Linked DNA regions of Homo sapiens. The protein of the gene in region 3 interacts with the protein of the main gene of each other region in a biochemical or structural test. Each region holds a gene or a part of one and is shown on either strand. Other genes may lie near its edges. The genes, in order: TAB1, IKBKB, MAP3K7 and USP29.

Evidence for each region.
Region 1: of the proteins of MAP3K7 (region 3) and TAB1, one has a biochemical effect on the other in vitro, tested with the Homo sapiens proteins (4 studies listed by BioGRID and IntAct).
Region 2: of the proteins of MAP3K7 (region 3) and IKBKB, one has a biochemical effect on the other in vitro, tested with the Homo sapiens proteins (5 studies listed by BioGRID).
Region 4: the proteins of MAP3K7 (region 3) and USP29 form a complex in vitro, tested with the Homo sapiens proteins (2 studies listed by BioGRID).

The regions. Positions count from the first base shown.
Region 1 is NC_000022.11:39,416,780-39,423,802, reverse strand, and holds part of TAB1 (TGF-beta-activated kinase 1 and MAP3K7-binding protein 1), read right to left. Parts: intron 7,013-7,023; coding exon 6,926-7,012; intron 6,093-6,925; coding exon 5,954-6,092; intron 5,072-5,953; coding exon 4,958-5,071; intron 4,285-4,957; coding exon 4,173-4,284; intron 1,977-4,172; coding exon 1,832-1,976; intron 1-1,831. UniProt on the Homo sapiens protein: Key adapter protein that plays an essential role in JNK and NF-kappa-B activation and proinflammatory cytokines production in response to stimulation with TLRs and cytokines.
Region 2 is NC_000008.11:42,266,915-42,274,318, forward strand, and holds the start of IKBKB (inhibitor of nuclear factor kappa-B kinase subunit beta), read left to right. Parts: upstream 1-4,387; 5' UTR 4,388-4,555; intron 4,556-4,643; exon of another isoform or gene 4,644-4,809; coding exon of another isoform or gene 4,810-4,819; intron 4,820-5,168; coding exon of another isoform or gene 5,169-5,186; coding exon 5,187-5,291; intron 5,292-7,404.
Region 3 is NC_000006.12:90,549,070-90,556,092, forward strand, and holds part of MAP3K7 (mitogen-activated protein kinase kinase kinase 7), read right to left. Parts: intron 4,518-7,023; coding exon 4,389-4,517; intron 3,111-4,388; coding exon 2,980-3,110; intron 1,481-2,979; coding exon 1,399-1,480; intron 1-1,398. UniProt on the Homo sapiens protein: Serine/threonine kinase which acts as an essential component of the MAP kinase signal transduction pathway. Plays an important role in the cascades of cellular responses evoked by changes in the environment.
Region 4 is NC_000019.10:57,115,176-57,122,999, forward strand, and holds the start of USP29 (ubiquitin carboxyl-terminal hydrolase 29), read left to right. Parts: upstream 1-4,809; 5' UTR 4,810-5,054; intron 5,055-7,149; 5' UTR 7,150-7,299; intron 7,300-7,824.

The DNA.
Region 1 (7,023 bases), on a different chromosome or scaffold from region 3:
CAATGTACACTATAAAACACTATACATTACTTACAATGTACACTACTGGAATAACTGGTTTACTAAGATCTCAGAATTCACCACTACATAATTCATCCCTATAACAAAAAAATACTGGTACCTCAAAAGCTACTGAAATAAAAATTAATTTTCAAATTTTAAAGAAGACTTTTTCCTCATGATATTGATTGATTGATTGAGACAGAGTCTTGCTCTGTTGCTCAGGCTGGAGTGCAGTGGTGCGATCTTGGCTCACTGCAACCTCCACCTCCCGGGTTCAAGCGATTCTCCTGCCTCAGCCTCCTGAGTAGCTGGGATTACAGGTGCCTGCCACCACACCCGGCTAATTTTTGTATTTTTAGTAGAGACGGGGCTTCACCATGTTGGCCAGGCTGGTCTCGAACTCCTGACCTCAAGTGATCCGCCTGCCTCGGCTTCCCAAAGTCCTGGGATTACAAGCATGAGCCACTGTGCCCGGCCAATACATGATTTTTAATTAAAAAGGACAAAGCAGGCTGGGCACAGTGGCTCATGCCTACAATCCCAGCATCTTGGGAGGCCAAGGTAGGAGGATCACTTGAGACCAGGAGTTTGAGATTAACCTGGGCGATACAGTGAGACCCTGTCTCTACCAAAAAAACAAAACAAAGAAAACAACCAAAATTAGCCAGGTGTGGTGGCACACACCTATAGTTCCAGCTACTCAGGAGGCTAAGGCTGGAGGATCGGTTGAACCCAGAAGGTTGAGGGTGCAGTGACCCGTGATCACGCCACTGCACTCCAGTCTGGGTGACACAGCAAGTCTTAAAAAAAAAAAAAAAAAAGTCAAAGCAGAAAAGGTTATCTTCCTACAAGAATCACAGAAAGGAGGAGGAACACAAACTGAACTTATCTTAGCCAGTCAGCAATCCAAGGAGGTCAGGGAAAGACAGTTTTCCTTTGAGACCATCCCTAACGTGACTGTCTTGAAGTCACACTTTGGTGACTCCAAGGTATAAGAAAAATAAGCAACTCTTGGCTGAGGGCCTGTGTCTACCACGCCTAACCTCACTGCGATCTCACAAAGGCAGATGTTACCATCCTCACTGTAGAAATGAGAAGTGAACTGCCGGGCGCGGTGGCTCACGCCTGTAATCCCAGCACTTTGGGAGGCTGAGGTGGGTGGATCACAAGGTCAGGAGTTGGAGACCAGCCTGGTGAAACCCTGTCTCTACTAAAAATACAAAAATTAGCTGGGCGTGGTGGCAGACACCTGTAATCCCAGCTACTTGGGAGGCTGAGGCAGAGAACTGCTTGAACCCGGGAGGCGGAGATTGCAGTGAGCCGAGATCATGCCACTGTACTCTAGCCTGCGTGACAGAGGGAGACGCTGTCTCAAAAAAAAAAAAAAAAAAAAAAAAAAGAAATGAGAAGCAAACTATAAATTGTCTGCCACTCAGGGAGGGCAGTAAAGCCGTCAGGCCCTTGGCAGGAAGTGATGGGTGTGGGAAGGACTCTGCACATCTCTTTCTGTGCTCTCCTCCTGGCCCTGGCCCCTTCCTGGCCGTCTCAGAGTAATGCCGTGCCCATAGCAATTCACATCCATCTCCCCCTCTTCCCTTCAGACCTTGCTCAGGCCCTGAGGACTGGCACTGCTTCAAGCCTAAAATGAGTCAAGTTTTTGGGTGGGATGGGTGTTTTCAGAGCTCTGGGATTCTCCTTCCCCCAGCTTTGAACCCAGAGATGTCTGGTGACGGCCTCCGAGAATCACAGTGCTAGAAGGCAGGGTGAGCACATCACCATGCAGGCCAGCCACGCTCTCCGGCCATGGGCGTGGCTGGGCCCAACTCACCTGGTTGGCCTGCCCAGGCCCATGGGCTGCCTCTAGGGCCTTGTACAACCCCTCCGACATCAGCACCAAGAAGCCCGTCACCCCATCCAGCGGCTGTGCCCCATGGATTTCTGGCTCTGCGATGATTGGTTTGGACTTGGCAGCGCTATGGGGAGAGAGTGGAAGGAAGAGCTTTGCTTGGAACAGCCCGCAGGTGGATGCTGATTCTGCTGAGGGGAGGAATCTATGCCCAGAATGTAAAATAAAACACACAACCTGACAAGAGGAAAAGAAAAGAGAGAAAGAGAAGGTCAGAAAAATAGACCCATCGTCTTACAGCAGCTGCTAAAATAAAGCTTGGAAGGCCATAAAAACTGGCAGGCAGCTGAGGTCAGGATGGCAAAGGTTGAATGCCCGATTCTGGCCTGTTCCATACGTCCTGTTCACAGGGTCCGGTGGTGGCAGGGCAGGGTGTGGGACAGCAAGAGGGAGGGATTATCCCTGGGAGCCCAAGCCTCTTGCTATTATTTGGGCTTTTCCAAAACAGATGGCTGAGACCCCAGATACTCTCCATGTGTACAGGGATCCTTTAGTGACTGGGGTCAGAGTCATTACATGCCAACACATGTGTGTGCACATGGAGGTAAGTACATGAGGAGGTGCTGGCAACACCATCCAGAAGAGCGGAGTCTAAGAACTTCCTGAGGGTCCGTCAGCCAGGGCTGGGCCCTGGGAGCGGTTATTACACAGAATGACGCCATCCTAACTGCAGGTGAGCAGAATGAAGAGATGAGCACCTTTAATGATAGCAGTGAGGGGTGTGTAAACATATCTCCAAACTCATCAAGTTGTATGCATGAAATAGGCACAGCTTTGCATATGCCAATTACACCTTAGGGTTTAAAAAAAAAGAAAAGAAGGAGGAGCAGGACACACCAGCACCTGGGAGGGGCAGGACACACCAGCACCTGGGAGGGGCAGGACACACCAGCACCTGGGAGGGGCAGGACACACCAGCACCTGGGTGTTCCGAAAAGGATGCAGGCTCCTTGGCCCCCAGGACAAACACACACACACACACACACACACACACACACACACACACACACAGAGAGAGACACCCCAGCACCTGGGTGTTCCGAAAAGGATGCAGGCTCCTTGGCCCCCAGGACAAACACACACACACACACACACACACACACACACACACACACACAGAGACACCGTGTGTGTATATGTGCATGTGGCCAGATTTTGGAACAGGATACACAAGAAACTAGCAGCCTCTGGGGAGGCAGCGAGTCCTAGAGTGTGGTGTAGGAAGACTTCCTTTCCCTGTATAGACCCCAGCACTGTCTGAAGTGTTTTAAACTATGGATGTCCTTTCCAATAAAGGAAACAGGACCCCACAAATTAGGGACAAATATTCGACACTCAGTTGCCTAGATCGCGTGAGGGCAAGGAGTTCTAACATGCACTTTCTAGGCCATGAGGCCTCTGTTGATGGGAACTCTGGCTTTGGGAACAGCCTTGGCCATGACATTAAATGCCATGATTGGCATCAGGCAAGTGGACGCGCCTATCTCCCCAACCAACACTTCACATACAGGTTACCTGACGGTTAAGGACACATATTCCAAATTCAGGCTGCCTGTGTTCAAGCCCCATGACCAGGGTGGGCTGCCTGATGTCTCCATGCCTCAGTTTCCTCTTATGAAAATGCCTCTGGGGTGATGGCAGTGACTGCCTCAGGGGGCCTGAGTAGGGAATGCATAAAAGAAGGTACATCCAGAGCTCTGCACGGGCTTGGCCGTGTGATGATGACTGCCCATTCTGCTGCCATGAGCGCTGGGGTGATGTCCAGAGGAGGTGTCCTCAGAGGGAAATACACAATTCATCTCACACCTCTGCTGCAGCCATGGGCAGCACCGACCAACAGGCCTGGTCTGTCCATCCCATGCCAACTCTGGCTTCGCCTGCCTCCCTTGTGGCACTAGTTGCTGCCCTCAGCTTTGGCCCAGCTCAACTCCACCCCTTGTTTCTACAGTACCCAACTCCTGGCCTGCTGGGCCTAACCTGCCCCAAACCAACCTCTCTGGGAGGAAGAAAGAGTTTGCCTGGGCTCTGAACTACTTTGACTGCACATGTGTCACTGGGGCCTACAGTCTGCGTCTGCCCCAGGCCTTCTGGACCTTTTTTTTTTTTTGAGACAGGGTCTTGCTCTGTTGCCCAGGCTGGAGTGCAGTGGCATGATCACGGCTCACTGCAGCCTCGACCTCCCAGCACAATCAATCCTCCCATCTTGGCCTCCCTAGGACCTTCTGTTCTTTCAAGCACAGGGGACAGCTGGGCTGGCACCTACCTGAGAAGGTCAATGTCCGTGTAGCCATATTTAACCTTGTAATCCCCGATCCGCCGGGTGCTCTCCTGCCCACAGATGATCCCCACCTGCTTGATCTTTCCAGCATCCAAGCCTACGGAGGGAAACAGTGCAACAATCCTGCTTCTTGTTCACAAAGAGGAACAAAAAGAAGGGGACAGAGACACAGTCATGGGAAGAAGGCAATAAGGACCCACTGAATAGGAAATGAAGACAACACCAGGGCACCTGGGAGAGCAGCTGACCCAAAGTCCCTGGTGTCCTCAGTCCCCACGCCCATCACGACACACCTCACTCAGAGCCCGTCCTCCAGGCACCACCTGGCACGGAGCAGCTTGCCTGCCGTCTCCCTGCCCATCCCGTGTGCCCCACATCTGCCTGGAGCTCACTGGGAAGGGAAGGAGCAGCTCAGCAGCAGCTGGGCTCCCTGGACTTCTTTGGCCTCTTTCAGTCTCCACCAATAACAGTAAGTGTCTTCTGTGTGCCAGGCACTCCAGGAAGCATTTCACATGCACTAACTGAATCCTCCTAGCATCCCGAGGTAGGTTACTATTATCCTCATTACACAGCGGGGGATCTGAGGCACAGAAAACTTAAGTTCCAATCACCAACCAGTAAGCGGCAGTGCTGGGAATGAACCCCAGGCAGGCTGGCTGGGGAGCCCAAGATCACAGCCCCTCTACCACACGCCTCTCTACCCCACCACCAAAGGCAGGCGAAGGGTGAGCCCATGGGGATCAGCTTCCGCTCCCACTCTCCCCACTCACCCAGCTGCGAAAGACGGAAGAGCTCATCCTCGTTCTCTGTGGTGTGGTCCACGTTCAGCTGTGTCACCTGCAACCCATCCACTGTCGATTTGCATAAAAGTGCACGGTTTGTACCTGTGGCAGAATGTGAACAGCTAAGCAAAGACTACACACAGAGAGAAATAGGGCATACCGGGAAGGCAGAGAGGGAAAAGGCAGGCATTTCACACATGGAAATACCTGAAATGGGCAAAACAGGCTCAGACCAACGGGGTGAGTCACCAGTTAGGGACAGCTGGTGATACGAAAGAATTGGGTTTAACTTTTTCAGTGTAATCATAGGATTATGATCTTAATAAAACAGACCTCTTCTCTAGAGATACAGACTGAAATATTTACAGATAACATGATACAGTGTCTGGCATTTGCTTCAAAATAGAGAACGTGGGGACAAAGAAGGCTGGCCACAGTTGATAACTGCTGGGATTGGGGATGGGCGCATGAATGTTCATTAAATATCAGTCACTCTATTGTTCTATATTGTGGAAAATTTTCCACTGGAGTATTAAAAAAAGGCAGCATCATCAGAAGGGTCTCTACAGAGTCCTTTCTACTGAAACCTGCACCTGTCTGGTCTTCTCACAAACCCCAATGTCCCTGTCACCTAGCCCCATCTCGCAGCTGTTCATGGGGATACTGGTTGGTTATTCATGGCCAGGTAACCTCTTCCAGAAGCAGCGGCCCCCAAGGCCACCCAGAATGGGATACGACTCGTCCAGAATGAGTTAAGAAGCAGAATAGGGACTAAAGGCCAGGACACCTGTCTCCCATCCCGTCCTTTCTCCCTTCCAGTTGGGACTGAGGCGTCACTGTGGAGAGGGACATACCCAACGGTCTCAGGAGACCCTGGGTTTAAAGTGCGTGAAGTGTCTGGAAAGCAGATTGTCAAATAATGCACCGACCCCTGTGGCTGACCTCTCCCCAGTCCTCCCTGCCCTGGGACAGGAGGGGGCTCACCGACATTGGCGACGTAGAGCTTGTTGTTGAGAAGGACCGCCACAACGGCCATGGCCCCTCCCGAAATTTCCCTCTCTAACGTCTTGAGTCTCTCAAGGATCTTCTGATACTGAGGAGGCAGCTGGTGCTGAGGGACTCCCTACAACCATCAACAGAGGGTCAGGGCAGGACAGAACTCTGGACCATCTTCCTAGCCCTCTCCACTCCCTTTACTCTTTTTTTTTTTTTTGAGATGGAGTCTCGCTGTGTCCCCCAGGCTACAGTGCAGTGGCATGATCTCGGCTCACTACAAGCTCCGCCTCCCAGGTTCACACCATTCTCCTGCTTCAGCCTCGAGAGTAGCTGGGACTACAAGGCGCCCACCACCACGCCCAGCTAATTTTTTGTATTTTTAGTAGAGACGGGGTTTCACCATGTTAGCCAGGATGGTCTTGATCTCCTGACCTTGTGATCCGCCCGCCTCGGCCTCCCAAGGTGCTGGGATTACAGGCGTGAGCCACCATGCCCGGCCTCCCTTTGCTCTTAAGAGCAAAGATCCGAGGGCCCGGGGGACAGACAGACAGATGGTCCATGGCACAGCCAAGATGAAGCCTTCGCTACAGCTCCAGGCTAAGGTTCTTCCAGAAAGCTGGAGATGACCGAACTCACAGCACAGAGGTAAGCGCTGCAGGTGGCAGTAGGCGATGTGAGCAGGTGGTTGACAAGGGCGGGGACCCATTCAGGACGAAGGACTGGGAAAAGCCCTTCCTCATGTCCACCACTGCCCAGACACTGCTGAGCTTTAGCATGCAGCTGCCCACAGCAGAGCAGCGAGGTCCCTCACCTGTGGCCACACACCAGTGTCACCCATCAGGAACTGCTCCCTAACGCCTGTTGCTCTGGCCCAGTAATGTCAAGAAAGTAGATGAGTCCATGCTCCTTGCAAAGCTGGGCCTGGACTTGACTCCCCTGGGTGTCGGCTGGGGAAATTACCTCTGGCAATTGCGACTGGAGGCTTGCCTTCTCAGCCAAGGCGTCGTCAATGGACTCCAGGAAGCTCCTCTCCACCACATCGAAGGCCTAGGGGGACA
Region 2 (7,404 bases), on a different chromosome or scaffold from region 3:
GGGCAACCAGTAGCCCTCGGGGGCTGCTCTGTCTAAGGAGTAGCCGTTCTGTTATTCCTTTACCTTCTTTTTTTGTTTGTTTTTTTTTTGTTTTTTTTTTTTTTGAGGTGGAGTCTCGCTCTGTCGCCCAGGTTGGAGTACACTGGCGCGATCTTGGCTCACTGCAAGATCCATCCACCTCCTGGGTTCACACCATTCTCCTGCCTCAGCCTCCTGAGTAGCTGGGACTACAGGCGCCCGCCACCATGCCTGGCTAATTTTTTGTATTTTTAGTAGAGACGGGGTTTCACCGTGTTAGCCAGGATGGTCTCCATCTCCTGACCTCGTGATCCACCTGCCTCCCAAAGTGCTGGGATTACAGGAGTGAGCCACCATGCCTGGCCCCTACTTTCTTAATAAACTTGCTTTCACTTTACTGACTCGCCCTGAATTCTTTCTTGCGCGAGATCCAAGAACCCTCTCTTGGGGTCTGGATCGGGACCCCTTTCCTATAACGGTACTGTACTGTGGTACTAATTACTGCAGAACAAATCCGTGTGTGATTTTATATTGCCTGGCCTTTGTCTGTCCTTACTTCATGGCTCCCTGTGGGTCTTAAAAACCCAGTAAGATTCTAAGTGCCTCTGATGAGATCTCATTCCATTGCTTGGATCCCCTGGGTCAGTAATGCCCTGGGCTGAGCTAGGCACTCTGGCTGGTCAGTATTTCTTGATTTCCCTATAGCACAGCTAAAAAGCACACTCAGCCTCAAAGCAGGAAGAAAAGGGGACATTTTTCTGCTGAATCTGAAAATATCTTTTGTAAACAGTCTGCTCATATCTCCAGAGCAGGACAGAAACCAGATGCAGGCAGAGATAGCTAAACATGTCTTATCTGGATAGAAAATTGAGCTTAAGATAATAAATATCTTGGAATATGATAAAACCCAGAGGCCCCTTCCTGGTCCATGATTAATTGAAGAAAAAAAAAGCCTAGTAATACGTGACCTTATCAGAGAGATTTATGTTCAGTTGAAAGCCAAGTTATTTTGAGCTGAGCAAAATGAGGATTCAAATTACAGGAGCGCAGAGTAAACTTTTGGCATATTAGCGGACATCTTGGTAAGTTTCTCAGGACAGTGTTTTTCAGAGATGACAGGATTAAAGAGAAACCTTTTATGACATTGTACTGGAAATGGACTCTCCACAGTGCCCAGCACATATAGGTGCTCAATAATTTTTTTTTTTTTTTTTTTTTTTAGATGGAGTTTTGCTCTTGTCGCCCAGGCTGGAGTGCAATGGCACGATCTCGGCTCACTGCAACCTCTGCCTCCTGGGTTCAAGCGATTCTCCTGCCTCAGCCTCCCGAGTAGCTTGGATTACAGGCACGTGCCACCACGCCCAGCTAATTTTTTTGTATTTTTAGTAGAGATGGCGTTTCACCATATTGGCCAGGATGGTCTTGATCTCCTGACCTCGTGATCTGCCCGCCTTGGCCTCCCAAAGTGCTGGCATTACAGGTGTAAGCCACTGTGCCTGGCCTAATTTTTGTATTTTTAGTAGAGACGGGGTTTCACTATGTTGGCCAGGCTAGTCTTGAACTCCTGACCTCAAGTGATCTGCCTGCCTCGGCCTTCCAAAGTGCTGAGATTACAGGGGTGAGCCACCACACCCGGCCAAATTTTTTTTTTTGAGATGGAGTCTCGCTCTGTCGCCCACGTTGTAGTGCACTGGTGCGATCTCCACTCACTGCAACCTCCAGCTCCTGGGTTCAAGTGATTCTCCTGCCTCAGCCTCCCAAGTAGCTGGGATTATAGGCACCTGCCACCACGCCCAGCTAATTTTTGTATTTTTCGTAGAGACGTGGTTTCACCATGTTGGCCAGGCTGGTCTCAAATTCCTGACCTCAAGTGATCTGCCTACCTTGGCCTCCCAAAGTGCTGGGATTACAGGCATGAGCCACCTCACCTGGCCAATAAATATTTTATTTAAAAAATTTACTTATTAAGCAAACACTTATATTGCACTTAGACAATGCAGTCACTATTCTACGTGTGTTACAACTATTTACTCATGTTCCTGTTGCTTCTGGCCTTGAGGCTGAGCTTGCCATTTAGCTGGGAGTAATCAAGAAATACCAGGCCAGAAGCGGTGGCTCACACCTGTAATCCCAGCACTTAGGGAGGCCAAGGCGGGAGGATTGCTTTGAGGCCAGGAGTTCAAGCCAAGTCTGAGCAACATAGTGAGACCCCCATGTCAACAAAATAAAATTTAAAAATTAGCTGGTCATGGTGGCACGTGCCTGTAATCTCAGCTAGTGGGGAGGCTGAGGCGGGAGGACCCCTTGAACCCAGGAGGTCAAGACTGCAGTGAGCCGTGATCCTGCCACTATACTCCAAAGTGGGCGATAGAGAAAGGCCCTGTCAAGAAAGAAAAAAGAAAGAAAAGGAAAGAAAAGGAAAGGAAAGGAAGAAAGGAAAGGAAAGGAAGAAAGAAAGGAAAGAAAAAAAAGAAAGCTAGCAGCTGGGAAGGGAAGGGGAGGGGAAGCGAGGGGAGGGGAGGGGAGGGGAGGGGAGGGGAGGAAAAGGAAAGGAAAGAAGGAAAGAAGGAAGGAAGGAGGAGAGATAGGAAGGAAGGAAAAGAAGGAAAAGAAAGAAACCAAGTAGCCGGGAAGGGAAGGGAAGGGGAGGGGAGTGGAGGGGAGGGGAGGAGAGGGGAGGGGGAAGGAAGGAAGGAAAAGAGAGAGAGAGAGAAAGAAAAAGAGAAAGGAGAGGGAAGAGGGGAGAGGGGAGAAACCGAGCAGCCAGCGTGCCTAGCACAGCCCTGGACACCATTGACCCCTATGTTTGGGTTGAGATCTGTCCCTGAGTTAACTTCAACCCCAGGGCTGTCAGGCACTGCTGCTATCAATACCTCATTTGTCCCTCACAACAACTCTGGGGTGGCCTCCTTTCTATGACTTTCTATGAGCCCGCCTGTCCCCCTGCTATTACAATGAAGCAGATGAAACTGCTGATCTTTGTTACTGATGTTTTGGCTGTTTTCAATTTCCAAAAAATGACAATTAAATGCAATTCAACCTAATATTGCCTAAATTTTAAAAGAGGAAATAGGTTCTCACAGTGTTTAAGTAACCAGCCCCCGTGCCTCAGAGGTAGTCAACAGCAGTATCTGGATTCAAAATCCAGTTTGCCTCCTTCTGAACTTCTTAACATGCTACTTTTAGCCACGGATTAAGAACCCGGGAACCAGTTGCTAGGGTTTGAGTATCAGCTCATCTACGTAGCAGCCATGTACCTTGGAAATAATAATAATGCAGACCAGGTGCAGTGGCTCACAGCCTGTAATCTCAACACTTTGGGAAGCCCAGGCGGGTGGATCCCTTGAGCCCAGGAGTTGGAGACCAGCCTGGGCAACACAGTGAGTGAGACCCCGCCACCAGGTATGGCGGCCGCGCACCTGTAGTCAGGAGAATCACTTGAGCCCAGGAGTTGGAGGTTGCACTGAGCTGTGATCACACCACTGCACTCCAGCCTGGGTGACAGAGCGAGATAATAATAATAATGATGATGATGATGCAGTATTTTCCAATTTACAGGGTTGCCCTGAGGATTGAATAAGGAAATCTAAGTACAGAGATTTAGAACAGAGCCCTGCACTGTGTAAGCACTCTATAGATGTGAGCTATTATTATCATCTTCAGGTTCCTTTGGTAGTTTTTTTCTGCTTGAATAAAATATAGCAACACACACACACACCTCCTTTGTCCACTAATGTAATCCCATAAAACGGAGAAACTCAGCAGTGAGGACATTCTGATTCCAAGCAGGAAGGAGATGAACGATGAACCTCAGGCTGAGCGCCTCACGGTTTCCTCATGTCACCGGGGCTGGGGGTGCAGTTTGGCTTCACACTGCTAGGTCTTTTCTTGTTTTTAAGGGGGCAGGGGCTGTCACCTCTGAGGAGTCAGCTGTGATTGATCCTTCTCCACACCCAGCCAAGCACCCCCCAGACAGGGGAGCGCCCGCAGTAGGGCGGTAGGCAAGGGCAGTTCTAGCCAACAGTCCCTAAATCATCCCAGCGGGGGCGCGGGAAATTCCACCGAGGTGAAAGCCTAGGGGGCCGGGTGAAGAAATCCCCATACCCGGGCCCAGAAACCGCTCCAGGTGGAAGTAACTTGTCTAAAGAGAACAGGGTGTAACGGGGGTCATTTCAGGGCTGTTCTTTTAAATCGGTGAGCACGGTCTGTCTACTTTCCCTCAGTTGTCTAGAGACCACACGCCACCCCCGCCCCGGGGGAGTCGCCCGGTCGAGGGTCCCGGGACAGGCGCAGCACTCGCAGCATCCGGACCTGGTCTGCCTCGCGCCGGGAGCGGCCTCTTTAAGAGCGGCCGCGGCCAACGTGCTCCGTGACGTCAGAGCAGGAAGTGTTTGAGGAAGTCGCGCCGCGCTGCCCGCGTTAAGATTCCCGCATTTTAATGTTTTCAGGGGGGTGTCATAGCCCCGGGTTTGGCCGCCCCAGCCCCGCCTTCCCCGCCCCGGGGAGCCCGCCCCCTGCCCCGCGTCCCTGCCGACAGGTGAGTCCCCCTCGTGGGTGCGGCCCGGGTGCCACCTGCAGGCCCCGCCGCCCCGCTGCCTGCAAGGCCCGGAAGACCCCTCTGTGCCGCTGGGAAGTCGCAGCTTGCGGACTGGGGAGCGTTTCACTTGTGCGGGTTGGAGTTCGGGAAGCCGGGAGAAACAGCTCTCCCTGGGGTGGCTTCTTGGGGGTGGGTGGCTTTGAGGGGAACCTGCGATTTATGGGAACATTGTAAAGAAACACGTGACCTCGGCGATGCTCAGAAGTAGGTTCTGCCCCTGCCACCTCGGGCAGAAGGCGGGCAGGCCCGGGCGCCCCTGGTGGAGTCAGCTGGGGATCCCCTCGCTAGGGCAAGGGCGTGGGCATCGCCTCCCTCGGTGACTTTCTTCCTTGCCTGATGCCACAGCAACCGGATGGGGGAGGGTGAGAGGGACAAAAGTTTGCCACAAAGTTTGGACCAACCAAACACATTGGTTTCTTTACAAAATAAAAAACCAGTTGTATTTTTCTTCTCTCCCATTCAAGAGCAGTGGTATCTCTTGCCTTCTCCATCCCTTTGAGCTCCATTTTTTTCTTAATCCTAACCTTTTTTCCCCATCCCAAATTGCTTATAGAGTTAGCACGACATCAGTATGAGCTGGTCACCTTCCCTGACAACGCAGACATGTGGGGCCTGGGAAATGAAAGAGCGCCTTGGGACAGGGGGATTTGGAAATGTCATCCGATGGCACAATCAGGTAGGCCCTCTGTGCAGCTTGGGGAGGGGCGGGGAGCCAGGCCCCCTCCTCACTGCCTCCACTTTCTCTGATCCTGCTGGGCCAAGGGCTCACCTTTGGCTTTGGTCATCTTGGGACAGTGAATAGGGGGACTGGGAAGAGGGCTTCAGGACTTCTGAGCTGACTCCAGGTTAGTGGTCTCCATGCTTTATTGACTATGTCACCTAAATAAATAGTAAAATAAAGTTAAGCTCTTAGTCTCTATTATATATATATGGTAACAGTAGAATATCATGTACTAATATATACTGATATTATATGTTATAAAACATATAGAAATAGGAAAATTTAAAGGATGAGACTAAATAAATAATTTAAAATATTTTAATTCCTTGAGGCCAGTAGTTCAAGAGCAGCCTGGGCAACATAGCAAGACCTCGTCTCTACAAAAAAGGTTTAAAAATTAGGCAGCCAGCTGGGCGTGGTGGCTTATACCTGTAATCTCAGCACTTTGGGAGGCTGAGGCAGGCGGATCACGCAGTCAGGAGATGGAGACCATCCTGGCTAACACTGTGAAACCCCATCTCTACTAAAAATACAAAGAATTAGCCAGGCTTGGTGGCACGTGCCTGTAGTCCCCAGCTACTTGGGAGGCTGAGGCAGGAGAATCGCTTGAACCCATGAGGCGGAGGTTGCAGTGAGCCAAGATTGCGCTACTGCACTCCAGCCTGGGTAACAGAGTGAGACTCCGTCTCAAAAAAAAAAAAAAAAAAAAAACCTTAGGCAGCCTTGGTGCGTACCTGTAGTCCCACTACATTGGAGGCTGATGTGGGAGGATTGCTTGTCCAGGAGTTTGAGGCTGTAGTGAGCTATGATTGTGCCACTGCACTCTAGCCTAGGTGACAGAGTGAGACCTTGTTTCAAAACCATTTTTTAAAAATTATTTTAAATGTCGGGTGCAGTGGCTTACACCTGTAATCCCAGCACTTTGGGAGGCCGAGGCAGGAGGATCACTTGAGGTCAGGAGTTTGAGACCAGCCTGGCCAACATGGTGAAACCTCATCTCTACTAAAAATACAAAATTAGCTGGTGTGGTGGTGCATGCCTGTAACTTCAGCTACTCAGGAGGCTGAGGCAGGAGAATCGCTTGAACCCAGGAGGCAGAGGTTGCAGTGAGCCGAGATAGTGTCACTGCATTCCAGCCTGGGTGACAGAATGAGACCCTGTCTCAAAAAATATATATATATATATATATTTAAAATATTTGCTAATTATGATGTCTTCCCAGTATTGCTTGCGATACTGCACGGCAAAAAATAAGCAGATCCACATGAAAGTGAGAATTCATTTAGAATGATGATGAAAATCCATATTTCAAATAATTAACATTTTTTTAAATTTTGTAGAGATGGGGTCTTGCTATGTTGCCCAGGCTTGTCTCAAACTCTCATCCTCAAGCAGTCTTCCCGTCTTTGCCTCCCAAAATGTTTGGATTACAGGCCTGAGCCATGGGACCTGGCCTCAGCTGAGGTTTTTTTTTTATTTTTTGTAGTGATGGTGGTCTCACAATGTTGTCCAGGCTCGTCTAGAACTCTTGGCCTCAAGTGATCTTCCTGCCTTGGCCTCTCAAAGTGCTGGGATTACAGCCATGAGTCATTGAACCTGGCCTGTTTTTATTTTTAATTGACACATAATAATTGTACATATTTATGGGGTACAGTGTGATATTTTGATACATAATGTGTAATGATCAAATCGGGGTAATTGGCGTGTTCATCACTTGAAACACGTATCCTTTTTGTTGGAAACAGTCAAAATTCTTTCTTCTGGCTATTTTGAAATATACAATATTTTTTTTTTTCCGGAGACAGAGTCTCGCACTGTTGCCCAGGCTGGAGTGCAGTGGTGTGATCTTGGCTCACTGCAACCTCCGCCTCTTGAGTTCAAGTGATTCTCCTGCCTCAGCCTCCTGAGTACCTGGAATTACAGGTGTGCACCACCATGCCAGCTAATTTTTGTATTTTTAGTAGAAATGGGGTTTCACCATGTAGGCCATGCCGGTCTCAAACTCCTGACCTCAGGTGATCTGCCCACCTCAGCCACCCAAAGTGCTTGGATTACAAGCGTGAGCCAC
Region 3 (7,023 bases):
ACTGATGATGCAAGAGACAGGGGAGAATTGCTCAGAGGAGCAGATGGGATATAATGCACAGGCAGAAAGGTACACCTTTGGCCAGAAGTATGGATAGTTTAGCCAGAGTAACAGAAGAAAGCAGAGTAGATGGGCACAGATGTTGTGGAAGCTGTCTTCCGATTACTCCAATTTTCTCAGAGAAAGAGCAAACAAGATCAGCTGAGAGTGAGGAGTGGCGAGGAGGTGTTTGAAGTCTGAGGAGAGGCTACAGTATAAAATTAAGACATATAGGAGGAAAGAGATGAACTACAATACAGTACAACTGTCCAATAGCACTAAACATGCACGTGAGGATAGTAAACCTGTGCTATCTCCAGCCACACTCAGCTGCATTGGTACAGGCAAGGAGTAAGCCGAGTGTCAGCTTTCATTAGGCTTGTGGTTTAGCCAAGCAAGCTTGAGAGAGAGGCTAGAAAGATGAAAATTATTCCCAAAAGAATTATAATAGTTGATTGGAATTAAGTGGAGGGAGAAAGAAAAAAGGACCTAAGAGGACTGAGGACCAGTGAAAAGGTGGGAGGCTCAAAAAATTCAAGGTCACAGTAAGGAAATGAAGAGAGAGTTTAGAGGACGTGGGAGACACAAATGATAGAATTTTAGAGAAGTACATTTTAGAATTCAGAGCAACTCAAAATATTTTCAGTAAAACTGGAATTTGAGAATAACTAGCCAAGCAGTAACCATCTTAAAATAAATAAAACTATTCTTGAGGTGGGAGAAATAGATCAGTAAAAGTATTTTTCAATAAATGCAGGGTAAATACATGTGCATATAGACACACACATATCTTTAAGTTTCAATTAATAATGAAATGCTTATAATGCCACTATATTTTGAGAAGTACAATATTTCTAAGTTACAGTATTATTTCTACTATCTTTTTGATGACCACAAATTACATGTCCCACTACTACTTCACATTTCGGAAAACTAAGGAACTTTTAACATAGCTTCTTAAATCAGAGCCTCTGTAGAAGAGAACAAAAACTAGGGTGTTCGTGATGAAGAAATGTTTAAATACATTTACAATAATTTCTAATACTACTTGATCTAGTAGTATGCATGTAAAAGTGATTTTTCAAGTTAAGAATGACATTCACTGTAATACAATATGCCATCTTTTTATTCATAATTATGTAGGAATTCTAAGACTTGGAAGCAGGTCTTCAATAACTCTTTAATCAGGGTACCTACATGAAGAATGACGCACCTGTAAACTCAAATTGCAGTCAATCATATGAAATGAAGGAATTAAAATGCAAATGGGGACATTATTCATTACTTCTTGATTATAATTTCATGGGAATAGAGATGAAAGAAAAATCAAGTCAATACTCTTCCAATCTATCCATTTACCTGTACTGGTGGCAGAGTTGCTCTGTCCTTCATCTGAATACTGACAAGGATACTGTAATGGCTCATCTGCTCCTGGAAAGTACTATATATAAAAAAGTAAACCACAGCTTAAAATTTCCTTAATACAAATTAAATCCTGATTAATGTTTTATTTTCCCTAAGTTATATACTAAATTTGTAGGTGCCTAAGTTTTTTATTTTACAAAGATTACAATAATGTACTCTTGGATTTCAACTTTGATCAATGCCATGCACCTACCTAAGAATCTAGCTTACATTGGAGTCTAGATAGTCTTGAAGAAAACAGCAAATATTTCTCTAGAGAAACATATGAAATAAAATAGTATCATTTCTCATAATTATGTAAAACATACTCATGTTCTTACAGTAGTGATGTAAACTTCCAGTGACTGTTAGTCTGAAGACTGAGACTAGTATACCATAGAATAATTGTTAGAACATTTTAAATATTAAGAGGATAGATTATGAATGTCTTTCTACAAACTGGAGGCATAATACTCAAAGTATCTGCTGGACAAAAATGTTAGAATTTAGAGAAAAAAAGGAAACGTATTCTCCTCAAATTAGACAAGGAACAGAGAAGCAAAATTACAACTGCAATAACTTATATATCCTAAAGTTTTAAGTAATCTGACTACAGAGACTAAGTTGTTTTCTTATGCACACACCTTTAAGGCCTAGGCTTCTATATATGACTGGTATCCAAATACGATGGTAAACTTTTAGTAGATTAGTTCAAGCTGCTTTGCGTAAGAAATTTTCAATAGATTGAATAAACAACGTTTTACCATTTAGGAAATTACTTAGTCTATATTTAAGGAGATTGTAAGATTCTTCTACTGAACAAACTGTTTCAAAATTCAGGCACTTTCATAGATATTTGAACTTTTTAAAGCCAAGATACCACTTCACAGTTTTTGTTAATGTACCAAAAACCAGAGGCGTAAAATATTCCAAATAATTCTAAAGGCGCTTGATTCACAGACTAGGAAAATTTGATAATCATTTAAAAGGGTTCTTCTAAATAGAAGAAAGTTTAACTTTTTACTGGGATATAAAAACCTGAAAATAGGCCAAATAGTAAAAGTCACTCAAATAAATGTGTCTGAGAATGCAACCTATTGCCTTGCATAAATGACTAAATGCTTGATGAAAATTGGTATCAGAAAAATGTAAAATTTAGTTTATCATGTATTGAAGTCATAATATTAATATATCCAAGTCCTGTGATGGCTTTAGAGACTATCTATTTCAGTTTCTCCCACATTACAAATGAGGCAACAGGCCCAGAGACAAACATACTTGTCCACTAATGTAAGCAAAAAGAAAAAAGCAAGTCTAGAAACCTAGTCTAGCCATCTTTCCAGTGATAAAGAACTAGATTTTCCCTCTCGAAATGTTTCCTCTTCTGACTATGAGTAATAAATGCCCATTCTCACTTAGAAAACATAGCAATATATAAAGCAGAATATAGTAATAACATCCCTTTTAAAATTCCATTAAAACTCAGCACATATTAAATTCCCCTAAATCCAAAGCCCCTCAAAAGAAGGATTATACCCGCATCAAGTGAGTCATTATTTTCACAATTTCCTCCATTGAAGGGCGCTGGGAAGGATCTTTAGACCAACAACGAGTCATCAGGCTCTCAATGGGCTTAGGTAAATTTTTTATCAGTGGTGGTCGAGTACCTACAATTGAAAATGAGAGGAAGGGGGGAAGAATGTATTTACCCAAAGAATGATGCAAACTCTTTGTACGTATTTCCAAAGTGGTATTTATTTTATAGATCTTGTAGTTTAAGATCTGTAATTTGGAGTAATAAAAGTGCTTTGTAATTTTATCAATTAACAAGTTAGTTCTTTTACTCTTTACTTCACGGACGTTCAATTATTTACTGACAACTGATAGAAAGCAAGCAAGCAAGCTGTCCTGGTCAATGCTGAACAGTCTCCACAATGATACTAATGGTAGTAATATTAAAGGCAGTATAGGAAACTGGTAAAAACAGCTAAGATTACTCAGATGATGGTACTGTTTGATAAATCTATGAATGACCTAAATAATTAGGCAGACATTTGTTTTTAGACTTGTGGAATAATGTAAAAAATGGCCATTAGTCACATGATTATAAACAAGGCATAGAAATGAAATAACTAAGAGTGGCGCTAAAATTAAGAAGGTAAGTAATTTTCCTTCATGAAAAGCTATTTTCCCAAGCAAATGTAAAGTAACTTTACTAATGAAGAGGATGCATTCTAACATCATATGTGGTTAAAAACAACATTACCAGAACTATAAAAGAAACAGGACAGATGCAAGGACATTGAGTCCATAAGTCAATATGACTTAAGATATGAGCATTCAAGTCAGAAGCATCTGGATTTGAATCCCAGCTCTACCACTTACTAATCTTGTGACCTTAAGCAAGTTATTTAACCTCTCTAGGCCTCAGTTTCCTAATCTGTAAAATGAGGCAACAGTACTCACCTTCTAAGGGTGGGTGAGAATATAAACAGGAAAAATATGTGAAGCATTATTATTCTTTGCTTCTTCTCCTTGATGAGGCCCTTGCTTCTTCAGGAGAAAAGGGCTATAACTCTCCAGTTATATTAACCATGTCAGAGATTTTATGTATGTATTTTTTTATTTTTTCCATGATCCAGCCTGATGCTTCTCCCTAAGAGAGAGCCAACTGTCTAGGTTGCGTACTGATGGCCTTTCCCTAATCAGCGGAGCCAGTGAACATCCTCAGCCGCATGTGTAGACCAGGACTACTCTCAATCCTGCTCTGCTGGACTCTGGGGCAGGGACAGGGCAGAGTCTGATAATAGCAAAGCAGTCTCTTAACAAAGAATTGTACATTTTAATGTTAGAGATAAATGATATTCTTTAGGGAAGGGGACAGGAGTAGTCTTCCAAGTAGAAAACACAAAAAGTACTTTTAAGAAAAATTTCTTTTTACGAACCATTATGAACAGCCCACATGATTCGGAAAGCTGGGCCACCAATCTCATCAAAGGGTTTCCGACGCGTTATCACTTCCCAAAGAATAATACCCCAGCTGAAGACGTCACATTTTTCACTGTAATTACTACCTAGAAAAAAAAAAGGTAGTATATAACCTAAAGACTATTTTTCCACATGACTTACAGAAACAATGGCTTAAATTTTGAGAATGGGTATCAGGGATAAAAATGAGGCTGTCACATGTAGAACTAAGAAACTACTCTTTCTGAAGTACTTTGTCTTTTCAACAAGTACATTTTTAAATGAATTAAGTATCAACAATACACTAAAAAACTACTTCAGAAACTCAGTTATTTTCTATCTTTTTTCATCAAGAGGCAGTTTTTTCATCAAGAGGCACAGGACTTGACTTTTATGTATTTAGACTGATACTTTCTCTGGGGCAGAGTATGAAACATCTGTACATTCCTTTATGTTGTTTATTATTATTTTATTCTGAGACAGGATCTCACACTCTCATCCAGGCTGGAGCTCAGTGTAGCCTCAAACTCTTGGGCTCAAGTGATCCTCCTGAGTAGCTGGGGCTACAGGCATGCGCTGGCACAACTGGTTAATTTTTTAAATTTTTTGTAGAGATGGGGTCTTGCCATGTTGCCCAGGCTGGTCTCAAACTCCTGGGCTCAACTGATCCTCCTGCTCTGGCCTCCCGAGGCGCTGGGATCACAGGCATGAGCCATTGTGCCTGGCCTCCTTTCTGTTACATTTTAATCTTAAATTTTCTTCCCACTCTGACAGACAGCACTACTCTGCTATCAAAGCAGAAGAACTTTCTAATTTAGTGTTACAGTTTTTTCCTCAATATATGGTGAAGGGAAATTCTTAATTTATAAACTTAAACATTACGTTGTAAGTAACGAAAATTATGGATAACCTGAGTTACACAGCAAAATTTACAAACTAAGTAGGTGGTTGAATCAGCCAGCACAATAAGCACCCGTCATAATCTCCCAAAAACAAACAAACACTCAACTCACTGTAAGAATGAACAATTATTATAGCTATAGCTTTACATGCTAAGCAGTACACTGTAATATAGCACTACAACCATGCTACAGTCTAATTTGGGCTACAGGTTGACTGACATCTTTCAGAAATGAAGAAACTTACACAGCCTAACAGTCTGCATTTTGTTGCTCTAGACAATTAAGGGTTGTCTAGAGCAATAAAATTAATCTTTTGTATAAACAAATCTTTTTGCTCTCCACATACAGTAACATTGGGTCATTTTAACTCACATAAAGGTATATTAAATAAGTAAATAATTTTAAAACAATGTCAAATGTATACATTCTGTATATGAAACAGGAGGCATTATTTAATCTTGTGTAATATAACACCTGATTATTCATTTATTACTAAATTGAATTTTAGGGCAAAAGAGCTCCACTCAGGTGACTAGTTGCATTGCAATTTCTCTTCCTCTGGGGTGGCTAAAAACAAACAGAAAACCCTTTAAAGTCATCAAAACTGAAAGAAATAAGCTATAACCAGAGTCTGATTAACTGAATGTATCTGAATTTTATGGGCATTTACACTTCCTAACATACAAATCACATACCTTCAGTTCAACTTCTTTCATTTAAAAGATAATTTGATGTTTTTATACAGAAACCTAGCATATAATTTACAGACAACTCTTTTAAAACTTCAGTGACATATGGAGGTATAAAAGAAGGTAAACATATAAGCTTGACATTTATTTGTAATTCTTAGTATCTTATTTCTGTCCAATTACTTGCATTCTTTTTTTTTTTTGAGATGGAGTCTTGCTCTGTCACCCAGGCTGGAGTGCAGTGGCACGATCTCGGCTCACTGCATGCTCCGCCTCCCGGGTTCACACCATTCTCCTGCCTCAGCCTCCCGAGTAGCTGGGACTACGGGCGCCCGCCACCACGCCCGGCGAATTTTTTGTAGTTTTAGTAGAGATGGGGTTTCACCGTGTTATACAGGATGGTCTCGATCTCCTGACCTCATGATCCGCCCACCTCAGCCTCCCAAAGTGCTGAGATTACAGGCCTGAGCCACCGCGCCCAGCTATTTGCATTCTTTTTAAGGCATCCTCATTTAAACTTTAGGGCTCTCAATTTTTAATTGCTAGGAAACCAATACAAAAGCACAGTTAATTCTCATTATTCCTGGTATTTATGTTCTATAAAGTTTCTGAGAACACTGAATTAGTGAACACTGAATCACTGCTCCTAAGGAAAATACAGGGGTAGGTTCCTGTGTGCCTCTGGTCACCATGTTTTTGTCAACTGATCAATATATAGCCTTGTTTCATGCGTATTTCTGCTTAAAGACACCTTATTCATATATACTGTTGATTTATTACCATTGAACTCATAGTCAACATTTCTGTAACTCATGCCTGAATGAAGATAATTTAACATATGTATATTGTCTGTTAAGATACATCATAGCCTTCTTGTACTTAGGCAGTACTATGCTTGAGGGCCATTTTAAGTAGCAAAATTACCAACAAAAATCACAAAAATGAAAAAGGGCTCTGAACAGCACAAAAAAGGACACCTGCTTACAGCATGAGAGCTGAAACAAGACGGAAAAACGTTGTCT
Region 4 (7,824 bases), on a different chromosome or scaffold from region 3:
GTCTACCTCTAAGCAATCCTCTAAGTCTACCTCTACTGATCCAGCAAGTCTACCTCTAAGAATGTATCCCAGGATATACTTGTGAAGATGGAAAAGGACTGAGTATTATGATTAATTACTGAAGAATGGTTTCTAATGGTAAAAGATTGGAAACAACCTAAATATTCACCAAGAAACATCTGGCTAAATCTACGGTCTATACACACAGGGACATTGTGCAGTTATCATACCACACTTTGTATGTATACTATGATGTCAAAGTCACTCACGGTTAATGTTCTTTTTCAAAAGAACATTAGAGGTAGATTTTCTGGACCAGTGTGGATCTGAAACTTTAACAGATACTCCCAGATTTCCCACTAGAGATAAATTGGCAGTCTTAAAAATGGGTTCACGGTCTTTCGTGCCTTTGGCTTTAGAAGACACGGTGGCCAGCCTACTGTTCTTTGGATCATCCCACTCATTTCTGTTGGGTAATTTCTCTAATTTTTCCTCCTCTGGCTTTCTTTTAGCCCCTTTATTTATCTAAGTTAAAATTTCAAATATTTTTCCAAATTACCAAAAATAATTCCATTAAGAATTTGATTGAGACTGGGCGCAGTGGCTCACACCTGTAATCCCAGCACTTTGGGAGACTGACGCAGGTGAATCACCTGAGGTCAGGAGTTTGAGACCAGCCTGGCCAACATCGTGAAACCCCATCTCTACTAAAAATACAAAAGTTAGATGGGTGTGGTGGTGCACACCTGTAATCCCAACTACTTGGGAGGCTGAGGCAGGAGAATTGCCTGAACCAGGGAGGCGGGGTTGCAGTGAGCCCAGATCCCACCAATGTACTCCAGCCTGGGTGACAGAGTGAGACTCTGTCTCACGAAAAAAAAAAAAAAAGAATTTGATTGAGTGAAAATACCTGGGCAGGAGAGACACTCCATTCTTTGTGCCTTTGATGCTCTATTGTACCTTTTTCTTTTCTTTTCAAGACATGGGGTCTCACTATGTTTCTCAGGCCGGACTTGAACTTCTGGGCTCAAGCCATCCTCCCACCTCAGACTTCTAAGTATCTGGGACTGCAGGTGCAAGCCACTGCACCCAACTCTTAATGTACCTTTTACACACATTTGTGTCACAACACCTGTGCCACACCCTTAACAGTTTTGCAGATGCACATCCCAACGTTTTTCAGTTTTGAGAAAAATCACTTTTATTTGGTAAAAATCACACATGCTTATGAAAATAATTACACATTGCACCAAAGTGACAAAGATGAAAGTAATCACTCCAGATCCTAGTTCCGAGAGGTTACTATCTTTAACAGTAGGCAAATAATAAAATCCCAGGTTTTTTGTTTTTTCTTTTGAGACGGAGTCTCGCTCTGTCACCCAGACTGGAGTGCAGTGGCACGATCTCGGCTCACTGCAAGCTCCGCCTCCCGGGTTCAGGCGATTCTCCTGCCTCAGCCTCCCCAGTAGCTGGGACTACAGGCGCCCGCCACCATGCCTGGGTAATTTTTTGTATTTTTAATAGAGACGGGGTTTCACCGTGTTAGCCAGGATGGTCTCAACCTCCTGACCTCATGATCCGCCCACCTCAGCCTCCAAAGTGCTGGGATTACAGGCGTGAGACACGGCGCCTGGCCAATCCCAGGTATTTTTTCTATGCAAATATACAGAAGGCTGGATGGATAAACAGATAATACATGTAAATACTTAAATTAGAATGTGGCCCAGGAGAACATGAACTCCATGAGGTCAGGGATTTTTGTTGGCTAGGTTCACTTCCACATCTCCTGTACCTAGAGTAAGGTTTCTCAGCCTGGGCACTACTGACATTTGGGCTGGATAACTCTTTTTGTAGGAGATTGGGGTGGGTGGGGAGCGTGCCATCCACTGCACTGTAGGATGCTGAGTAGTGTCCTTGGCCTCTACCCTGGCAGAAGCATCCATGTGACAACCAAAACTGTCTCCAGACATTGCCAATTGTCCCCTGGGGGCAAAACTGCCACCAAGTGAGAATCACTAACCTAGAAAAGTGAGTGTTCAATACACAATAAGTGCTTGTTAAATGTATTACACAACCGGAAAATGATGTAAGGGCAAGTTAAAAAGTAATGCAAACTGGCCGGGCACAGTGGCTCATGCCTGTAATTCCAACACTTTGGAGGCCGAGGTGGGCAGATCACCTTGAGGTTGGGAGTTCAAGGCCAGCCTGGCTAACATAGTGAAACCCCGTCTCTACTAAAAATACAAAAATTAGCCAGGCGTGGTGGTGGGCACCTGTAATCCCAGCTACTAGAGAGGCTGAGGCAGGAGAATCAATTGAACCCAGGAGGTGGAGGTTGCAGTGAGCCTAGATCCCCGCCATTGCAAGTCAGCCTGGGCAACAAGAGCAAAACTCCATCTCAAAAACAAACAAAAAAAAAAGTAATGCAAACTCATCTGGGTTTTGGTCATGTCCTGCATCTCCTGAGGAAGGGCAGAGGGCTGAGGAGCAGTCCTTGGGAAGCACAAACATGTGAGAATCCAGGTTGGCTCTATGCCCTACCCAGTAACGTAGCCCCAAATCTCTGCCTTAGCTGACATGGGGGCACACTGAAGTCTTGTGAAGGGTAGAAGGGACCATGTTGAGGCAGGGACAACCTTGCCTACAGGTGATTCAGGTAATCCCACAAGTTCAGCCACAGAAAACAAGCATGACCATGTGCAAAGACTTCCACGAGACCACTTGTCACAGGGTTGTTTTAATTCAAGCAACATCAACATACACCAGAAACTTGTGAAGAAAATTATGGCACATTTGTATAACTTCAGTGTCAAGAAGCCAGCGGTATTTTGCAGATAATGCAAGGTCTGTAGATCGAAAATTAAGTTGGGTGTCTTCCTTTAGTGTACAAACACCTTGGATGTTTGAGGAAATCCAAAGACAAGGTTCTAGGCATTTTATACGTGTTAACTCATGTATTATGTTAATTCTCACAATAATCCTTTGGAACTAGTACGATCACCATCCCTGCCTTATTGAGGAGGAAATGGGGTACAGAGAGCTTAAGCAACTTGCCAGTGTCATGCAGCAGGGAAGCGCTGGAGGCAGGGCTCCAACCCACGCAGCCTTGCTGCATGTTTGTGGAATGAACACAGGACTCAGGCACACAACCATCTGGCTGAGGCTCCATGAGCAGCCAGGAGCCTGGTCCCAATGCAGTCTCCTTATAGGCACAAATGGGGTGCCCCTTGAGACAGGAATAATAAAGGTGGTCACAGGAGAACGGAAAATTCCAGGCAACAGTTTCACATGACTAGCAAAGGAAACCGTTGAAATCGCTGCGTAAGCTAGGGGCGGATAAGACTCTGAAAACCAGGGTGTGGGCCAAGCTGGCTAAAGCCGACTGGACCCAACATGGTGCTGGATTCGACCCGTTTCACCTAGGACCTCTCATTATGTGCTCATTAACATACTAAGTCACACACCCACTGTGACAGCTCTGGGGAACACCCGTATTTAGTATAAAAATGTGTGGCACCGCAGTACCAAGAAATGTTTACCTTTTTCCAAGAATCTTCATGAATATTCCACCCCTTGGTTAAATAAATATTTAAAGGTAGCTCCAAACCCCGCTGGGCGTGATGCTCTGTGGTATGCCTGCACTTTTCTTTCTTCAGTACGTACTTATTCCCGTCGCAATGAATCTCCACACTTTGTTCTGCTCATCCATGAATTCCTTCTCACGACAGTGTCAAGAGCCTGGACACCAGTCAGGGTCGAGGCCTCACCAGCATCTTGGGGCCTCACTGGGCACAGACGCGTGAGCGCCCGGCCTGCAGACCTGACTCTGGCAGCCGCTCAGGCCCTCAGAGGGAGAGATGGAAGCTGGCAGGACGCAGTTGCTACCGCGCGGACCCGGCCCCCGACCAGCCTTGGCCCCTCGCGCGCCGGGACAGGGCCACAAATGACTGCACCTGGGCTTCGCTGGCCCAGGCACCACGCGACTCTAAGCGCGCCCAAAGCGACCCTCTGCGCAAACTACCCCCGGGGACGACGTCACCCGTGAGGTCCCGCGGCGCCTCCTCCTAAAGCTCGGCTGGGAAACCGTCCGCTTCCCCAAGACTTGGGGGCTTGTGGCCGAGTTGTTTTAGTTTTCCTGTAGGATTCACGGGTGGCTGAGGCAAACACGCTTGAAGGCCTAAGACTTTTAAGTCTCTTCCGCACCCTCTCTTCTGTCTCTTCCACCTGGAGGATGACCGCTTTTTTGGGGGTTTTGTTGTTGTTTTGAGACGGAGTCTCGCTCTGTCGCCCAGGCTGGATTGTAGTGGCGCCATCTCCGCTCACTGCAACCTCCGCCTCCCGGGTTCAAGCGATTCTCCTGCCTCAGCCTCCCGAGTAGCTGGGATTACAGGCGCCCACCACCATGCCCGGCTGATTTTTGTATTTTTAGTAGAGACGGGGTTTCGCCACGTTGGTCAGGCTAATATCAAACTCCTGACCTCAGGTGATCCGCCCTCCTCGGCCTCCCAAAGTGCTGGGATGACAGGCGTGAGCCACCGCGCCCGGCCGGGATGACTGTTATTAACAATTCCCGGCGTGGTTTCTAGCACCAGCCCACCTACCACACCCCACCTCGCTTGAGGCTGAATGGGTAACAGGATGAACCCGCCCCTGGGCTGGTTTTCTCTGAACCCTAACTCCTGCCGTTACGCCCCACCAGCTCTAGGCCAGGAACTCTATGTGCCCCGGCCACGCTAGAGCCCGTACCTAGACCCGTAGGTCGGGAGGCCTGCGCCCGGCACTGCGCAGACGCAGCGTGCTGTGCCCAGAACTCTTCTGTTCCCAGGAGAATCAGGGGAGTCGGCGCCGGAAGGGGCGGGTCCGAGCTGAGATTTCCAGAGCCATGGGAGCCGGAAGTCCAAGGAACTGTACCTCCATCATGACGACTCCGGTTACGTAAAAACATTCAAACAGAAAATGCTGGCCAGGCTCATGCCTGTAATCCCAGCACTTTGGGAGGCCGAGGCGGGAGGATCGCTTGTGCCCAGGAGTTGGAGACCAGCCTGGGCAACATAGTGAGACCCTCCCCCCACCCATCTCTACAAAAAATTTTAAAATTAGCTAGCTGAGATCATGCCACTGCACTCCAGCCTGGACAACAAAGTGAGACTATGTCTCAAAAAAATTTAAAAATTACCCACGCCTGTAGTGTCAGATAGTCAGGAGGCAGAGGTTGGAGGATGACTTGAGCCTTGGGGATCGAGGGTGTAGTGAGGTATGATCGCACCACTGCACTCCAGCCTGGGCAACAGAGCAAGACCCTGTCTCAAAAACTATATAAAAGAAAAAAGGGCTGGGTCGGTGGCTCACGCCTGTCATGCCAGCACTTTGGGAGGCCGAGGCGGGTAGATCACCTGAGGTCAGGAGTTTGAGACCAGCCTGACCAACAAGGTGAAACCCTGTCTCTACTAAAAATACAAAAATTAGCTGGCCATGATGGTGGGTGCCTGTAATCCCAGCTACTGGGGAGGCTGAGGCAGGAGAATCACTTGAACCCCAGAGGTGGAGGTTGCAGTGAGCCGAGATCACACCACTGCACTCCAGCCTGGGCGACAGAGCGAGAGACTCCGTCTCAAAAAAAAAAAAAAAAAAAAAAAAACAGAAAAAAGGCCGGGCACGGTGGCTCACTCCTGTAATTCCAGAACTTTGGGAGGCCAAGGCGGGCGGATCAGGAGTTCGAGACTGCCTGGGCAACATAGCGAAACCCCGTCTCTACTAAAAATACAAAAAATTAGCCAGGCGTGGTGGCGGGCTCCTGTAATCCCAGCTACTCAGGAGGCTTAGGCAGGAGAATCACTTGAACCCAGGAAGCAGAGGCTGCAGTGAGCCGAGATCACGCCATTAAACTCCAGCCTCGGTGACAGAGTGAGACTCCATCCCCGCTCCGCTCCCTCACCTCCCGCCAAAAAAAAAAAAGAAAATGCACTGCAATAGAAAAATAAAAGTACTACACTTTGGTCAAACAGGGTAACTACTAGAACGTAAAATGATCTTTTTGAAACTATCCACATTTGTTACACGTGTTGAAAATGTAGGATATATATGTTATATATATACTTATATATGTTATATATACTTATATATGTTATATACTTATATATGTTATGTACTTATATATTATATATACTTATATATGTTATATCTACTTATGTTATATACTTATATATGTTATATATACTTATATATGTTATACATACTTATATGTTATATATACTTATGTTATATACTTATATATGTTATATATACTTATACATGTTATACATACTTATATGTTATATATACTTATATATGTTATATATACTTATATATGCTATATATACTTATATATGCTATGTATACTTATATATGTTATATATATACTTATATGTATGTTATATATACTTATATATGTTATATATGCTTATATGTATGTTATATATGCTTATATGTTATATATACTTACATATGTTATATATACTTACATATGTTATATGTACTTACATATGTTATATATATACATATATGTTATATATATATAATTATATATATATAAAACAAAAAGCACGGTTACTACAAAGAAAACAGGTAAACATTAAGTGGAGTAAAAGTATATCCTGTTATATAAGGGACTTGAACATGTCTGGGCATGGTGGCTCAAGCCTGTAATCCCAGCACTTTGGGAGGCTGAGGCGGGTGGATTACTGGAGGTCAGGAGTTCGAGACCTGGGCAACATAGCAAGACCTTGTCTCTATTAAAAAATAGATAGATAGATAGATAGATAGATACATAGAACATCAAAAGAGGGAGAGAGAAAGCAGACAGATGTGGCAAAATATACACAATTGGTAAATTTGGGTGAAGGGAATATAAGTTATTTCTACTAATCTTGCAATTCTTATGTATATTTGCAATGATTTCTAAATAAAAGTTTTTAATTACCAATTGAAATAAAGTAAAATAAGTCACTATCTAGCCTTTTCTAGACAAATATTTTAAACTCTTACACAGAGATAAGTTAATCAAGAAACGTATTTCCTGGAAAAACCCGTGATATGGGTGGAGCCACCTGGGAATAAAAGGTCGGAACATCATAATCACTGTCAGACTCAACTTCCATCATTCTCCTCCAGGCGCTATGGAGTCTAATCCAGGCACTTTGGAAGGCTGAGGCTGGAGGATCGATTGAGGCCAGGAGTTTGGGACCACCCTGGGCAACATAGCAAGATCTCATTTCTGAAAAAAGAATTATCATCCACTCACCCAGAACAGCTCTCCAAACTGTAAGTTTCATTCAAGGTTTGCTTGTTTGGGTGATGGGATGTGTGTGTGTGTGTGTGTGTGTGTGTGTGTGTGTGTGTGTGTATGTGTGTGTGAGTGTTGGAAGGAGGGTCTGTCTAAACTTAATGCCCTAAAGATATTGTCAGATATTGTGATGAGGGGAATTTCATCTTCTACCCTTTATGAGGTTGAATTGTAAATTCGAAAATCCTGATTCTGGGTTTTTATTTTGAGGGGATAGTTTTCTGTTTTCTGTGGCATTGGATATTGGCATTTTCAGAAAAGAGCATGCATCCAAAATGAAAATGATGAAGCCTACCTGTCTTTTGAACTCAGCTCAGGGAAAAGCTGATGATCTCTAATTTTTGTGATTCCTCCTTTCATTAAATTTAAGGTCCAGTGAGGGTGAAGTTTCCCTAAAGAGGCAATAATTTATCAGCAGCAACAGGATGAAATGGAGGGGCTTTTCTTCACACTCTATATATTATGTTAGGATCTCTCAGGAAACTGAGGACACATTAATTATA